Regions from separate parts of the Homo sapiens genome. Here region 2 is linked to region 1. Evidence: fine-mapped expression QTL. Tissue or cell type: whole blood. Region 1 holds a variant in brackets; the other region holds the start of a gene. All regions are shown on one strand. Distances are between the middles of the regions.

Region 1 (8,103 bases):
ATGACACTGTTAAGCTGCAGAATCAACATGAGGACAATCTAGATCCGGACATCTTCCCAAGTCAACAATAGATATCCTTAGAAGTTAAGCTACTGATAGTTGAGTTTTCGGATATTACAGCTAAGCACATCCTTCTTTGCTTTCCCTGTTCCTACTCAGCCTTCCAAAGCCAGGTAAAACCATTATCTCCTTCATACAGTCATTCAATAAATGTTTGCTGACTAACAACAAATATTTATAGAGCACGCATATGGCCTCTGCTCGGTTTTAGGTGACAGTCTAGTGGGAGAGAGACAAAAACAATAAATAAATTGATTACAAATTGCGATGAGCTTCATACATATACATTAAACAGTGGGGTGCTGGCTGGGCGCAGCGGCTCATGCCTACAATCCCAGCACTTTGGGGGGCCCAGGTGGGCAGATCACCTGAAGTCAGGAGTTCGAGACCAGCCTGGCCAACACGGTGAAACCCCGTCTACTAAAAGTACAAAATTAGCCACTTGTGGTGGTGCGCATGTGTAATCCCAGCTACTCAGGAGGCTGAGGCAGGAGAATCGCTTGAACCTGGGAGGCAGAGGTTGCAGTGAGCTGAGATCGCTCCACTGTACTCCAGCCTGGGCGACAGAGCAAGGCTCTGACTTAAATAAATAAATTAAATTAAATAAATGAGGGGGTGCTGAAATAGAGAATGACTCCTTTAGGTAGAGCAACCCCAAGCTTCCAAAGCCAGGTAAGCCATTTTCTCCTTCATACAGTCATTCAATAAATGTTTGCTGACTAACAAGAGATATTTATAGAAGACCTATATGGCCCCTGCTCGGTTTTAGGTGATAATCTAGTGGGAGAGAGACAAAATACGGTAGGAAGCCCTCTCTGAGGAGGTAACATTTAAGCAGGCACCTGAATGAGTGCAAAGTGCAGGGCGGGGCGATGTCCAGGAAGTAGGAATGAGTTGGGCCAAGCCCCAAGGGTGGACATGGCTTAGTGTGTTCGAGGAACTGGAAGAAACCCGTGTGGCGGGACAGTGGACAGCAGGGAGGAGACGATAACATTAGAGGAGGTGGAGAGAAAGCAGAGCCAGATGGCACAGCAGGACAGAGTATGGAATCTATTTTAGGGCAACGCCACCAGGAAGTGGCACGGTCTGATTTCTGTTTTAAGAAAATCCCTCCGCCTCCCACGTGGGAAACAGGCTTCCTGAATCCTTCCCGGTCTCTCCTGCCTCCCTCTGCCCTCACCTCTGTTTTAAGCCTCTGCATTTTTGCTCTCACCCCCTCCAGACCACAGTCTCCTCCCAGGATGAGATCGGGTGTAACTCGTCTCCAGCTCAGCACCCTCACTGTGGCCAGTGGGCCCCTCTTCTCCCCACGGCAGTCGACATCCGGGAAGAACTTCCAGGCACTGGGCTGGGTACCGAGGGTAATAAACTGACAATTCCATTTATGGACAGTGGCCTCATGCACCTCACAGGCCTCACACAGCAGGCAGGGGTGGGCCAGGGCCACCAGGAACCAGCCCCAGGCCTGGGGTTGCTCAAAGTTTCATAACTGTGCCCGTGTCCAAAAACAGAAGAGCCAGGCAATTCTGTCCTCCCATTAATGTCACCAAGCTGGACTTCTTCCTACCCCAGCTGCCCCCTGGCTCCCCCACCTCCTTCTTTGACGCAGTCAGGCTGTCCAGGGACAGAAGAAGAAGGACAGAAAAAGAACTCATTCCTTATCTTGGAAAGCAACGTTGAAACACCCTCACATCTCTACCAGCCCTCAGGCTTTGCGGGGAGCAGGAACTCCACCACCTCCCATAAGCTCTCTGTCCTGGGTGGCAGCTGGCAGCCTCTGCCATCAGAGCATGGCTTGTGTCATGGCTCCAGGATGTTCCAGGTGAATCAGCTCTTGGGGTCCCAAGAGAAAGAGAGATTTGGCTCAAAGTGTCTTGGTCTCTTCCCTGTGCAGCCTAGTCACATCCTTCCTCCCGACATTTATTACTCCAGACTGTGTTTCAGACACCAAGCCATAGCTTCCTGGAACACCGAGAGCCCTTGGAGATCAACTGGGGCCTGGCCAACACCCAAGGGATCCGAGCCATACCCCAGCCAGTCACGGTGGCTGAGCACAGCCACAGTTCTCAGTCGGGGGGCGGGGGCAGTAGGCGCCACAGAGCTGCATCAGCACCTCGGAGAATCTGAATCACAGCCCCCACACCCCCACTCTGTGGTCAAGACCCTCCGGCAGGATCGCTGGGCAGCGTGTGGTGAAGAGCTCAAACTCCAAGCCAAACTGCCTGGACTGGAATCTCAGTCCCCCCACTCACTAGATACGGCATCTTAGGCACGGGCCTCAGTTTCCACATCTGTAAAATGGAGATAACCTTCCAGGGTTGGATAACCCTGACCTGTGATGTGCTTAGGACAGGGCCTGGCACATAGCAAATGCTCTAAAAGAGTTGACTGTGTTGCCAATTTGTAAAATTCTGTGAGATCCTGTCTCCTTTGCCATGCCGCTGCAAGGTTATACGCAGATAAAACTTAAGTTACAATTCCGGTTTTCTTCAAGATCTGAGACATGTTAATTGTCTTTGTTTCTCGCTCTGGTAACATCTTCCCGCCGCACATATTTCCCGCCTTAAAGAGTTTAAAAGGTGATCAAAAAATCTAACACTGGCTACCCGCTTGGGACTCCTTCCACGCTGTGGAAGCTTTATACTGTCACTCTGCTTAATAAAGCATACAGCTTTTTTTTCTCTAGGAAAAAAAAAAAAAAAGAGTTGGCTGTGTTGCTATTTGCCATTGAGGCTCCTCAAGTCAAGGAAAGGTAGTGGCTCGCCCAAGGCTGCCAAGTGAGCCTGTAGCAGATCCAAAGCTGGAACCCACGTCTCCTAACTTCCAGACCAGTGCTCAGCCGCTGAGCTCACCAAGGCTTTGGATGGTCACAGGGACTTTTCTTTGCTACCTTGGAGGAAACATTTTCAAGGCATTGCGCTGCCACCCATCACCATAAACAGAGACTCACACTAGGCCAGGCGCCGTGGCCCACGCCTGTAATCCCCATACTTTGGGAGGCCAAGGAAGGCAGATCACCTGAGGTCAGGAGTTCGAGACTAGCCTGGCCAACATGGCGAAACCCCGTCTCTACTAAAAAATACAAAAACTAGCCAGGGCGTGGTAGCATGCACCTGTAATCCCAGCTACTCAGGAGGCTGAGGCAGGAGAATTGCTTGAACCCGGGAGGCGGAGGTTGCAGTGAGCCGAGATCGCACCACTGCACTCCAGCCGGGGTGACAGAGCAAGACTCCGTCTCAAAAAAAAAAAAAAAAACAAACAAACAAAAACAGAGACGCACACTGTCTCCCTGGGGACACACAGAGATTGAATCACAGAGACACAGCGTAAGTGTACACACAGTCACAGAAACACTGACATACTGAGGATCACAGAAGCACATGTGCGCACACACGCTGCACCCCACGATCCAGACCTCACCATCTTCTCTGCTCTCTTTCCTTCCTCTCCCCCTCCTTTCCCTCCGAACACGCTTATTGTGGCTGTTTTCCCAAAGTCCCCAGCCTGTCATTTGAAGGAGAGATGATGTTGGCAGCTGCTGCTGCTGCCAGCTAAAAGCCAAAACTTCTTGTTTCCAGCCTCTGATCTTGGTGTCCCAGCTCACCTGGGGAGCCAGCGGAGGCTGTGGGGTGGAGGCCTTAGCTCTGAGCCGCAAGCCTCCAACTGCAGCTGCCTTTTTCTACCCTCATTCACCCCCAGGATGTCCCAACTCAAGGGCAGCTGGGGGCTCT[C/T]GCCAAGGCCGTCTAGAGTGGGAAAGCCGGGGGTCTGCATGATCCCCACTATCAGAGCAGCTCAGCAAGACCCTCCCTCCAGAGCCCTCCAAGTTGTATAAAAGATCAATCCTCAGACTCCGACAACATCAGGGCCGCAAGGACCACTCCCAGCCATCTAATCCGGGTCCCTCCTGTTACAAATGGGGAGATGGAGGCTCAGAGAGGGGGTGAGATTTGTCCAGAGTCACACAGCAGAACCCAACTGGTGGCCAGGGCTCTAGACTCCCCACCTGGGCTTCTCCTCAGCCTCACTCTGAAGGTCGCAGCGTTGATGAAAGCCTGCCTGGGCACCAGCCTGCTGCTGACCCCATATCACTGCTCCTATAACCCCTTCTACACAGCCTCGCTGCAACTCCCAAGGCGGAGGCCGGCCAGCTCTTCTGTGACGGTCTCCAGAGTCAGAAACCTTCCCAGAGCCTGTCTTGGTGATTTATTTGCCCCTTCCTTCCTGTTTATTCAGCCCCTTGGCAAAAAGCCCAGAGGGAGAATTTATGAGAGGAGAAGGAGGGAAGTGGGGAGAGAAAGAGAGGTGGGGGGAGCAGGGGCGGGGCAGCTGGGGGAAGATGAGTATGGGCTGATAAAAGGAGGAAGAGAGTGGCTGTGTGCAGTGGCTAACACCTGTAATCCCAGCACTTTGGGAAGCTGAGGCGGGTGGATCACCTGAGGTCAGGAGTTCGAGACCAGCCTGACCAATGTGGTGAAACCCCGTCTCTACTAAAAATACAGAAATTGGCTGGCTTGGTGGTGGGTGCCTGTAATCCCAGCTACTCGGGAGGCTGAGGCAGGAGAATCACTTGAACCCAGGAGGCGGAGGTTGCGGTGAGCCAAGATCGCGTCACTGCACTCCAGCCTGGGTGACAGAGTGAGACTCCATCTCAAAAAAAAAAAAAAAAAAAGAGGGAGAGAGGAGGGAGAAGTTCAGGAAAGAACAACACAGCGTATGTTCGTGTGAGAGGAAGAGAAGACAAAACAGCACGTGAAGCCAGCGCTGGCTTTGGATGAGGGATCCGTTTGACATGGATCTACCTGCCAAGGGAAGATCCTCCTGGAGTATCCCTCAGCTGGGCTGCCAAGTGCTCCATGGGATGCCTGGAGTTGGAGAGGAGGTCCTGGGTGCCCAGGCCACTCCCAGGCAGATAGGCAGCTGGGGACACTGCACCAAGGAAGCTCCTGCCTTCCTCAAGATCCCAGTGTATTCCTTCCTTGGGCTGGTGTTCTCTGCCTCCTTCCAGGTATTCAGCAATGCTCTGGGAAGGACACAGGGTGCCTGATAGCGATTGACTGCAGCGGGGGCTCTAAAACGCTGGTTGGACACCAGGCAGGAAACAGCCAGGTCCTTGGGTTCTGACTGATTTGATGCATGGCCTTGAGCAAGATGCCCCCACTCTCTGGGCCTCAGTTTCCTCCTCTGTCCAGTGAGGGGATAGACTGGAGATAGCTAAGATGCCACCAGCTCTGACAGTCCAGGGGTTTGTGACTCTAAAGGTCATCAGCTAAATAGCATCACAGTGCAGTAGCCCCTCCTCCTGCCCAATCCCACTTCCATGCTCCGGGAATTGCAAAAGCACCCCAACATTTCATGTTCCCATGGTCTCCCCTGCTTCTGGGGGCCTGATGTCCAGGGCAGCACCAACCTCCAGCTGAAATCGGCTGCTTCTTCAAGGTTGACCTCCATCCACCCACAGAAAGCCTCATGAACACAGCAGCCTTAAGTGAAGTTTTCAAGGAGACGAAAATGGGGGGACAGGCATCTCTGTGCTCAAATGCCTTCCGATGTATGGGAGAAACGACATAATACCTAGGATAGAAATGAAGGGGGGAAGAGATGAAACCCAACTCCCCTGAGTCGATCATCATCGGACTCATGATGGGCACACGGAGGTTTATTATCCTGCTCTCGCTACCTTTGGGTATGTTTGGTAATTTCCATAATAAAACTCCAAATAACAACAAAAACTAAAAATGCGTCTTTCTGAGTCACCTATGGAATGCACAGTAGGGGAGACAAAGAAGCAACTCTTGCTCTGAAGAAACAATAATGTGATACGGTCGGTGCATTTTGAAATCTGAGGAGGCTTAGAAGAGCCTATTTCCTGGTGGTTTGCAGAGGCGGAAGCAGCGATCCAGTGGAAAACCAAATACACGGTTGCTTTCCACCCTGTTGACAAAATCATGCTTCATAGTCAAGTTAAGCTCCTTAGACCCATTCTCTAGTCTAAACTTACCCGCCCTACGCTAATGGTGCATCTTGACCAGTGTTCTTCGTCCTTTTGTTGTATACACAGCTTTTCTTTTCTTTTTTTTTTTTTTGAGACGGAATTTCACTCTTGTTGCCCAGGCTGGAGTACAATGGCGCACAATCTTGGCTCACTCCAACCTCTGCCTCCCGGGTTCAAGTGATTCTCCTGCCTGAACCTCCTGAGTAGCTGGGATTATAGACATGCACCACTACGCACAGGTAATTTTTGTATTTTTTGTAGAGACGGGGTTTCACCATGTTGGCCAGGCTGGTCTCGAACTCCTGAACTCTGGTGACCCGTCCGCCTTGGCCTCCCAAAGTGCTGGGATTACAGGCGTGAGCCACTGCACCTGGCCTCTTATTTTCAATTAAGTGTGTCCACAGAACTACTAACATAGTTTCTGAAAGGGCAAAAAAAAAAAAAGGGTAATTTTAGTCAAACAAATATTTTCATGAAGTTAAAAAAAAAAAAAGCGCACCAGTCCCCCAGTCTCCCCTCGGCTCCTGCTTCCTTTCCCCCGTCTTCTCCCCCAGTGCCTCCCCACCTGGCGCTATGCCCGGACTCTCCCCCTTGCCTTCTACACAGTGGTTTTGCCCCCTGCACAGCGGTTTCTCCCCCTTCCCTCATGCTTTGCAGCCCTTTCACACACCCAGGCCTATGACCCACACACTCGACAAGGACCCCACAAAGACTTCCCTCCCCAAGAAGAGCCGTGGGGCTACAGGATCGACACAGGCCCAGTGAGGCCAAAGTGTGGCTGGGAACAAAGGAGGCACGTCAAGGTGAGGTCCAGGCCATCTAAGCATCTATAGGGAAACATCTTGCCTTGTGGGACCAATTGCACTGGGAGCAATTTGAGGCCCAGGGCCCTCCCATGCCCAAAAGTTACCCCCAAAGTGGCTCTGCTGAGCCCACGCCTTGTTCTGCATCCTAATCCGGCACCAGAACTATATGGGAGCTAAGGACTGCCAAGGCTGGGTGCCTCATCCTGCAGAGGAGGAGTTCCCACCTAGAAAGGAAGACCCCTTGTTCAAGCTCACAGGGCAGGGTTTGTGGGGATTAGACACAAATCTGACCAGCCTCTCTCCTGCATAGAACCTTGTAGTAACTCCCACTGCCCATGGGACAAGGTCAGACGTCCTGACACACAGGCTGGCAGGACCTGCTCCTGCCACCCCATCCACCCACCTCCCACTGACCTTGCCAGCCTTGCACTGTCCCTTTTCCCCTCCGTCTTTATTCAGATGACTGTAACTCCCCCTTCTTGACTCTGCCCACGTCCTCTCTGGGCAGCGTTTCCTGACACTTGTCCACTAGCCCAAGTGGACTCCCGGGTTCCACTTGGGCAGAGCTGGGATTAAAAGTGAGACTCGGCCAGGCATAGTGGCTCATGCCTGTAATCCCAGCACTCTGGGAAGCCGAGGCAGATCACTTGAGATCAGGAGTTCGAGACCAGACTGACCAATATGGTGAAACCCCATCTCTACTAAAAATACAAAAATTAGCCAGGCATGGTGGCATGCACCTGTAGTCCCAGCTACTCGGGAGGCTGAGGCAGGAGAATTGCTTGAACCCAGGAGGCGGAGGTTGCAGTGAGCTAAGATCATGCCACCACACTCCAGTCTGGAAGACAGAGTGAGACTCTGTCTCAAAAAAAAAAAAAAAAAAATAATAATAATAATAATAATAATAAATAAAAGTGAGACTGTCCACCTCCAGAACCCACGGCCCCATCCGCTGAGCTCTGCCGCTCCAGCCAGGGAGGGAGAGCTGGCTGGAGACCCAGTTTCCTGATTCCCAAGCCCGTGCCTTCCCTCACTCCCCTGTGCTTCAGGGCAGAGGTGGGCTGCAGGTTGGATGGCGGCCACAGGGCCAGAGGAGGTTCTCCAGGAGCAGGCAGGGGTGGTCTTCCCGGTGCTCTTTGCAGAGTCCCCTAACACTCTGGTTCTTGAAAACCTCAAAGAGAAGGAAAGTCCAGAGTAGGGCTTGGGCCCGGTGGAAAGGAAGATTCTTCCCCTCCCTTCTCACCC
Region 2 (8,103 bases), 98 kb after region 1:
GAGAAGGGCTGTGATAAGTGCCACGTCCACCAGCTTAATGTAAGTGAGCACTGGATTCTCTCATGGATCTTGGCGCCTCCTTAGAACCCTGTGACTTAGAGGCAAAATCCAAAGTCTAAGCTGGCTGGGGATGGGATATTCCAGCATTCACCTCCCTGCACCCACTGTCTCCAGTCACACTGCAGCAACTGGGTGTACCTCATCTTTTTAAGGGAGAGGGGAGGAGGATGAGGAAGACCCATTACAGGCCCAAGGACCCCACCCAGCCTGGAACCACAGATTAAATCTCTCCTCATTAAAGCATGTCTCGGCCGGGTGGTGGCTCACACCTCTAATCCCAGCACTTTGGGAGACCAAGACGGGTGGATCATCTGAGGTCAGGAGTTCGAGACCAGCCTGGCCAACATGGTAAAACCCTGTCTCTACTAAAAAAATACAAAAATTGGCCAGGTGTGGTGGTGGGCACCTGTAGTCCCAGCTACTTGGGAGGCTGAGGCAGGAGAATCGCTTGAACTTAGGATGCGGAGGTTTCAGGGCACCGAGATCTTGCCATTGCACTCCAGCCCGGACAACAGAGTGAGACTCTGTCTCAGATAAAATAAAATAAATAAAGCATGTCTCATGTTGGAAGTAGGGGGTGGCAGAGGGTGCAGATTGCAAAAGGGACTGGGATGAAGGTGGTGGGATATAGCTCCCTACTCCCCACCCCCACACCCTCTGTTCAACCTGAACAAGCTCTTCCCCACGCTGATGTTTTAACACCCAGTATCTTCCCGGTTCTTCATCAAGTGCTTTCCTTCTATTTGCATGAATTTCACAACAGTGCTGGGAAACAGCAAAATCAGTACCTGGCATATAGTGGGTGCTTAAGAAAACCCTGCTGTTGAAATACTCTTTTACAGATGGGGAAAACGTGGCTTAGGGAGATTAGATGAGGCACCCTCAGTCTCACTGTTAGAAAAGGGTTCTGTTAAGACTCCAACCTATATTATTCCTTATCTTCAGAGGCAAATTCGAGTTAGATCAGGAGTACAAGCTCTGAAATACAAGGAGTACAAGGCTGAAATCGGTCTTGGTTGATTTCAGCCTTTTCCACTTACTGGCTGTGTGACCTTCTGTTAGTCACTGAACCTCTCTGAGCCTTCCAGTCCTCATCTTTCTCGTCAGGGTTGAAGCACAGATTAGAAACCACGTGTACAAAATGCCCAACATGGAACCGGTGCTCAGTCAACGGCACTGCTGCCCCAGCCCCTCCACAACATTACAGAGCAGGCTGAACTTGCTGTGTGACCTTGGGTAACTCACCTTCCCTCTCTGAGCCTCAGTGTCATCATTTTTAAGATGATTCTATTGGACATGCCCATCTGGTCCCTCAGCATCCCCACTTAAACCACTGGTCTGAGCCTTGGGTCCACCCACACCTGCCACACCCTCCACCAGGGCTAGTCCCACCAAGCCACATACCTTGAAGCCGTCTCGGGTCACCTGGCCCTTCTGAAAGTTCCTCATGAACTCAGCATTCTCTGCCTGGGTGTGCACCTCCTTGGTGGCCTCCTTCAGGGCCTCTGACAAATCCTGGGGCATGCTGAGGAGGAAATGGGAAAGGTGAACACAAAGCTGGCTGGGGGTGGGGTCCTTCCCAACTGCTGAGCCTCCCACCTGTGGGCAGGCCTTCAAGAGACTCCCATCCTCATTCAGGCCACGTTCTCAATCGCTTTAAGATGCAGCCTTGTGGCTGGGCACGGTGGCTCACGCCTGTAATCCCAGCGCTTTGGGAGGCCAAGGCAGGTGGATCACCTGAGGTCAGGAGTTCGAGACCAGCCTGGCAAACATGGTGAAACCCCGTCTCTACTAAAAATACAAAAATTAGCCGGGCATGGTGGCAGGTGCCTGTAATCCCAGCAATTATGCCTGTAATTGCTTGAATCCCGGAGGCAGAGGTTGCAGTGAGCTGAGATCACACCACTGCACTCCAGACTTGGTGACAGAGAGACTCCATCTCAAAAAAAGAAAAAAAAAGAAAAAAAGGGCCAGGCATGGTGGCTCACGCCTGTAATCCTAGCACTTTGGGAGGCTGAGGCGGGCAGATCACCTGAGGCCAGGAGTTTGAGCCCAGCCTGGCCAACATGGTGAAACCCTATCTCTACTAAAAATACAAAAAAAAAAAAAAAAATAGCCGGGCATGGTAGTGGGCGCCTGTAATCCCAACTACTTGGGAGGCTGAGGCAGGAGAATCGCTTGAACCCAGGAGGCAGAGGTTGCAGTGAGCCGAGATCGCGCCACTGCACTCCAGCCTGGGCAACAGAGCAACACTCCATCTCAAAAAAAGAAAAGCAAAAAAGCAAAAAAACAAAAAAACAAAAAACAAAAAACAAATTCAGGCTGGGCATGGTGGCTCTCGCAGCTTTGTAAACACTCTTCAGTCATTAAAACACTAAATAATACAGTCCCCCAAACCAAGGGGGAAATCCTGGTACAGGTAGTTCGCAGTGGAGAGGAGGAGGAGGTACAGCATAACCCAGGAAGAAGCAGCAGCCCCATGAACCGGCATCTCCAAGTTTGTAATTGCTTTGATTGGCTTTTAGACCCAATATTTAATTCAGTTATTTTGTTAAAGTTCCAGATGCAAATCTCATGACCCCCTATCATGTTATGCTCATCATGAAGGCGTCAGGGTTAAAAAGCCTGAGAAAGTCTGCTTTAGTCAAAGAAAAAGTCTTTCTGGGAGTATTTCTGTCATGGGTCCGTATCCCTGCCTCCCCACAGAATTGTCATTTTTCCCTTTTCTCCTGCCCTGCTTCCCTGTTCTACAACACAGCTGGTCAAAGTCTCAGGAGAAATGGCACATGTCTGTAAGTCCCAGCTACTCTGGAGGCTGAGGTGGGAGGATGCTTAAGCCCAGGAGTTAAAAAAAAAAATACTAACAAATTATTGAAAGAAGGGAATGAGTGAGACCTGGAGGTGGGCAGACCAAGGTTCAAGGCCCAGTTCTGACACCAGCTAACTGAGCACTCTTGGGCATGTCGCCTCCCTGAACTGGGCTATCTGTGAGACATGGAACACCGCAGCCAGGGTGATGTCTGGCTCAGGTCCTCCGTAGCTAGTGAGGGACAGATGCCACCAAGAGAACCAAGCATGCTCCCCCAGGCTGGCAGAGCCCCAGAGATCTAGATTCAGCAGAGAGCAACTCCAAACACACCTCGAAAGTAGGATTAAAAAAAAAATTGGCTACCTCAAAGACTGGATACTCTAGGGACACTCCCATCTTGGTCACCAACCGCATACCAGGGTGCCAGGCATGTAAATTACCGTTCCTCCCTCCAACTACCCTACGGGCACAGGCAGGATCAGAACCCCGCACCTCCTGACTCCAGAGCCCAAGTTTCTGGCTCCTGGGCTCTGTCGCTGTGTGGCAGTGTCCCGGGGTGGGGCTAGGACGCAAGCAGGGTTGGGAGAGAAAGGCGCCCGTCCCGCGTCCCGCGCCCCGCGCTTGCCTGTCGGGTTGCGGACGCTCCATCCGGCCGGTGCTGGGCTCGTTCGTGCTGGCTCCGCGGGCGGCGGCTGCGCTGAGGACGCTCGAGAGGAGGCAGGCGTTGACTGCCGGAGCCGCGGCCGGTCACATTTATGCTCGGCGGGTCACGTGGGCCAGGCGGAACAGCTGATGCCCACTTTCTGGCCGGGCGTTGCAACACCCGCAGGGGCCCGCGCCCAGCCCGCCCCGGGCCAGTGTGGGGTGGAGAGGAGCAGTCATATGACCCTTGGGAAACAAAGTCTGGCCATAGGACTTTTAGAGAAAACACACACACACACACACACACACACACATACACACACACACACACACACACACACACACAAAACCTTTAAGGAAATCTGAGAAGCTGCAGGCTCTGGGTGTGATTTTGCTCCTTCCAGAGCCCCCCCTTCTGCTCCCTGTCCCCTTGGGACTTGATGCACCCCAGGCGTCCCAGAAGGTTCCAGAAAGCTGGGAGGCAGCGCTGCTCAGAGCAATAGCCTGGTGGGCAACATCAGGAACTTAGCAACCCCAGGCTCTGCTGTCTCCAGCTCCCTAAAATGTCACCTGCTGGAATCCTCTGCTGACTGCTTGCCTCCTCACACCCTCTTTAAATGTACATTTAGGATCTGTTTTTTGAGTTCCTGTCAAAAAACAGAGACTCTAGTATTTTCATGGTTCATCCCTACAACTGACCTGTGAGGGTAGATCGCTTCTATTTTACAGATGGGGAAACCGAGGCTCAGAGGGGTGCAGTGGTGTCACACATAAAGCAGGATGCCAGTGTCCAAACCCAGGGAGGAGACTAAGTCCCCGCCTGCCTCCTCCACACTCTGGCAGCACCTGGTATCCGCCTGGACTGGGACACCTGTCATACAAACTGCTTCCCTGCTGGAATGCGTGGGACACTCTTCCAGGCACATTCAGGTCTGACTTATACTCAGTGCCTGCTCAGGGCCCAGAGCAGAGCTGGCCCTTGCTGATCGCCTATTGAATCAATTCTGCATGAGGTGGACTCCTTAGAACTCGGGGGAAATAGGGTCACTGGGTGAACCCAGAGGACAAAACGAATGGACCAGATGATTCATACAGTCCTTTCCCAATACTGTGATTCTCATTCTAAGATTTTTTTTTTAAGATGGCTTTCAGGCCTGGCATGGTAGCTCACACCTGTAGTCCCAGTACTTTGGGAGGTTGAGGTGGGAAGAGCGCTTTGAGCCCAGTCGAGGTGGGAAGATTGCTTTGAGTTCGAGACTGGCCTGGGCAACATAGGGAGACCCTGTCTCTACAAAATATAAAATAAATTAGCTGGGCATGGTGGCACATGCCTGTGGTCCCAGCTACTTGGGAGGCTGAGGCTGGAGGTTCACTTGAGCCTGGGATGTAGAGGCTGGAGTGAGCTGTGACCACGCTACTGTATTCTAACCTGGGCAACAGAACAAGACGCTGTCCCTCAAAAAAAAAAAAAAACAAAAAAAAAAAAAAAAAACTTCCTGGAATTCAGCCTAGGGCCACTACAGCCCAGAGGCACTTCTGAGATTGTATTGGAAAGGATCATCCTCCCAAGGGTGAGCTAAGGGGCCTTGAAAAAAATTCCCCTTCTTCCTCTGAAGGTTCCCCGAAAACCAACCGACAAAAGTCAGGTTAAGAGGAGAAAAGACATACAAAAATGTATTGTAATGGGGTAATCACGGAAGAATGGTGACCCTGTAACCCAGTGGAGTACAGAGGCTACCCAGCCTTTTTTATAGGGGAGAAGGGAGATAGGGAATGCAGACAATTCTTTTGAAAGACAGTAAATCATTAGCAAGAAGGAATGGCCCTGGAGGTGAAAGGCCGACTTTAAGGGAAGGTGGAGGTGGAGCCGCACAGGGACAAAGGTTGTCCTAGGCAGATAAAGTCCCCCAGGTAATCTCTTGGCACTGTCCTCAGAAGAACAGGTAAATCTGTCTGGGTCTGGTGATGACTCCCAGTCTCTTTCTCTCTCCAGTGGTTGATCTTTCCTGGATATTTGATGAGATTACTAGAAAAAGGGCTTAACACTGGCCGGGCGCGGTGGCTCACACCTGTAATCCCAGCACTTTGGGAGGCTGAGGCAGGAGAATCGCTTGAACCCGGGAGGAGGAGGAGGTTGCAGTGAGCCAAGATAGTGCCACTGCACTCCAGCCTGGGTGACAAGAGCGAGACTCTGTCTCAAAGGAAAAAAAGACTTAACACAATTGCATTTCTTTTGTAAAGAAGTGTTCTTGGTCAGATAAGGAAATTCCAGAGAGCGTCTCTCCCTGTGCTTGTCGGGGGAACAAGACAAGCTTACAGGGACCTTGACTCTGAGGCAGCTCCTAAGGCCTCTCATCATGTCAAAGCACCAGTTGTCCTGGTATCACTTTCTGAGCCCCAACAGTGGCATGTAAAGCACAAAGGTGGAGACCTTGCCTACTACTTTGCTTTGTAAATTCCCAGTTCCTGGAATAGTGCCTGGTAGGTCACAGTTAATACTGAATGCATGCCTGAATGAATAGATGCTTCAAGGTCTCTTTCTGGGAAAAAATAATAATATTGTTAGGCTGTAATATTGCTGGGCTGATAGAATGGGCTGGAACCAAGCCACAATTCCAAACTGTCATTCTAACCAGCCTTTATTGAGAATTTACTATGTGCAGAGACTTCACGCGCGTGATTGCAGCCCATCCTGACAACAGCCTTGCAAGCTATTTTCATCTCTATTTTGCCCACATGAGCACTGAGGGACAAAGAGGATAAGTCATTTTCCCAAGTCATACAGTTAATGATGGAAGAGCCAGGATTCAAACTACAGCACTTTGAAGCCAGTCCCCACAGTCCTGACCACCACACTCCAACCCTTCTCACAGAGGGTCCAGGAGTTTAGGGGAGATGAGTTTGCGTGTATAGATCCAGAGTCTGTCCATTCAGCGACCCTAGAGGGTAAAACTCATGAGATCTGAACCCTTTTTATTTAACACAGGGAAGCAGGGACCCCAAGAGCAGGAGGGACTTGGCCAGGCTATGCCCCCCATTGGAAAGAGAACCTCCAGTGACCCAGGGTTCCTGGCTGCCGGTCTGGGCTTGCTTTCTTTTCTAACTGTTCTCTGGGAGCCCCAGACTTCGTTAGAACAGCCCCCCACACAGTGGGTTGCTGGGGTGCAAGAGGCCAGGCCAGAGTTGTTCTGGTCCTCTAGGCTGTCCCAGGGCTGAATTTGTGGCCCTTTCGCATGCTGATTCAGCCTCCTGACTTCCCCTTCTTTTTAGTCAAGCAACAGGATGATCCAAATGCTATTCTCTCTCCTCCTGCTGGGCCAAATAAAAGCCCCTTAAAGGTGTCCACATTCTAATCACCAGAACCTGTGAATAGGTTACCTTTTTGCTACCTTACATAGCAAAAGGATCTTGCAGAAGTGATTAAGTCAAGGATGTTGAGATGGGGAATTATCTTGGATTATCCTCTTGGGCCTTATAAGAGGGAGGCTGGATGGTTGCACATACAGAAGGTGACAAAGAAAGCAGAGGACAGAGAGAGAGACTGGGAGATGCCATGCTGCTAGCTTTGAAGATGGAGGATGAGGCTGGGCACGGTGGCTCATACCTATAATCCCAGCACTTTGGGAGGCTGAGGTGGGCTGATCACCTGAGGTCAGGAGTTCAAGACCAGCCTGACCAACATGGTGAAACCCCCATCTCTACTAAAAATACAATAATTATCCAGGCAAAAAAAGTAGAGAACTTTCTCCTGCTGGAGGCAGAAGAGATGAGGCAGATGCAGAAGTCAGAGAGATGTGAAGCATAAGAAGGCCTCGGTGGATTGCAACATTAAATCAGGGGCAGATTGAGGTGGACTTCACAGGGTGGGAGCTGGGGGACCCAGCAGGGGAAAGGCACAGACTTAGAAAAGACAAACAAGAGGCTTCTGCCGTTTTCTAGAAGTTTCACTTCCTCCTGCCTACCATTAAAGCTGCCCTTTCACCTCCCACCTAAAGAGAAGCTGAGGAGGCACTGGTGACTCAGCAAAATCTAGCAAAATCCGCCTTCCCTTTGTTTCCGCGAGTCCCCCCTCCCAAACATGACGCAGCAGAAATGCAGCTGCACGAGGGGATGAGGAAATCGCGACTCAGCATTCCCAAGGCGCCTTCAGGAAACAGAAGTGGTTTGGGCAGCAGGGAGGGGGGCGGGTCAGTGACTCGCCAGCCCCTAACAGTGAAAAACAAAGGCGAGGCCCTGGCGTGGGAGGAATCATGGGGAGGCCTCTTGGCCAAGCTGGATGGTGGCTAAGGAGAGTGAGGAGACCTTGCCTGGATATTCTCCTCAAGCAGGGGACGTCCCCAGTAAATAAGGTCACAGACGGTGTCCTGACCACACCCACACCCCACACAGACCCAGAAAGAACATGTGCTCGATTCTGCAGGGCAGGGGCTCCAGTGAGGGTCTACAGCCTAACTGCTGTGTGACAGGCTGGAAAACAGCCTTCTTCAGCAAGGAAGACAAGCCCAAGTTATTTTTTAAAAATCCATAGACTGGGCCAATTGTGGTGGCTCACGCCTGTAATCCTAGCACTCTGGGAGCTGAGGTGGGTGGAT

What was found. PIP is the estimated chance that this variant, and not a neighbour inherited with it, causes the effect.
Region 2: it holds the start of HMOX1, and the variant in region 1 is fine-mapped to the expression of HMOX1 in whole blood (INTERVAL, PIP above 0.99).

The regions. Positions count from the first base shown.
Region 1 is chr22:35,474,302-35,482,404 of GRCh38, reverse strand. No RefSeq gene overlaps it. Among named protein-coding and RNA genes, the nearest start is that of RASD2, 62 kb to the left of the region's middle. RefSeq lists a silencer at 3,303-3,480. The variant C/T (reference allele first, on the strand shown) is at 3,792.
Region 2 is chr22:35,376,588-35,384,690 of GRCh38, reverse strand. It overlaps HMOX1 (heme oxygenase 1), which reads right to left and starts at 3,595. Exons shown (of 5, transcript NM_002133.3): 1 at 3,495-3,595; 2 at 1,465-1,585. The coding sequence starts at 3,517. RefSeq lists silencers at 3,325-3,494, 3,795-3,874 and enhancers at 7,109-7,348, 7,310-7,857, 6,955-8,103.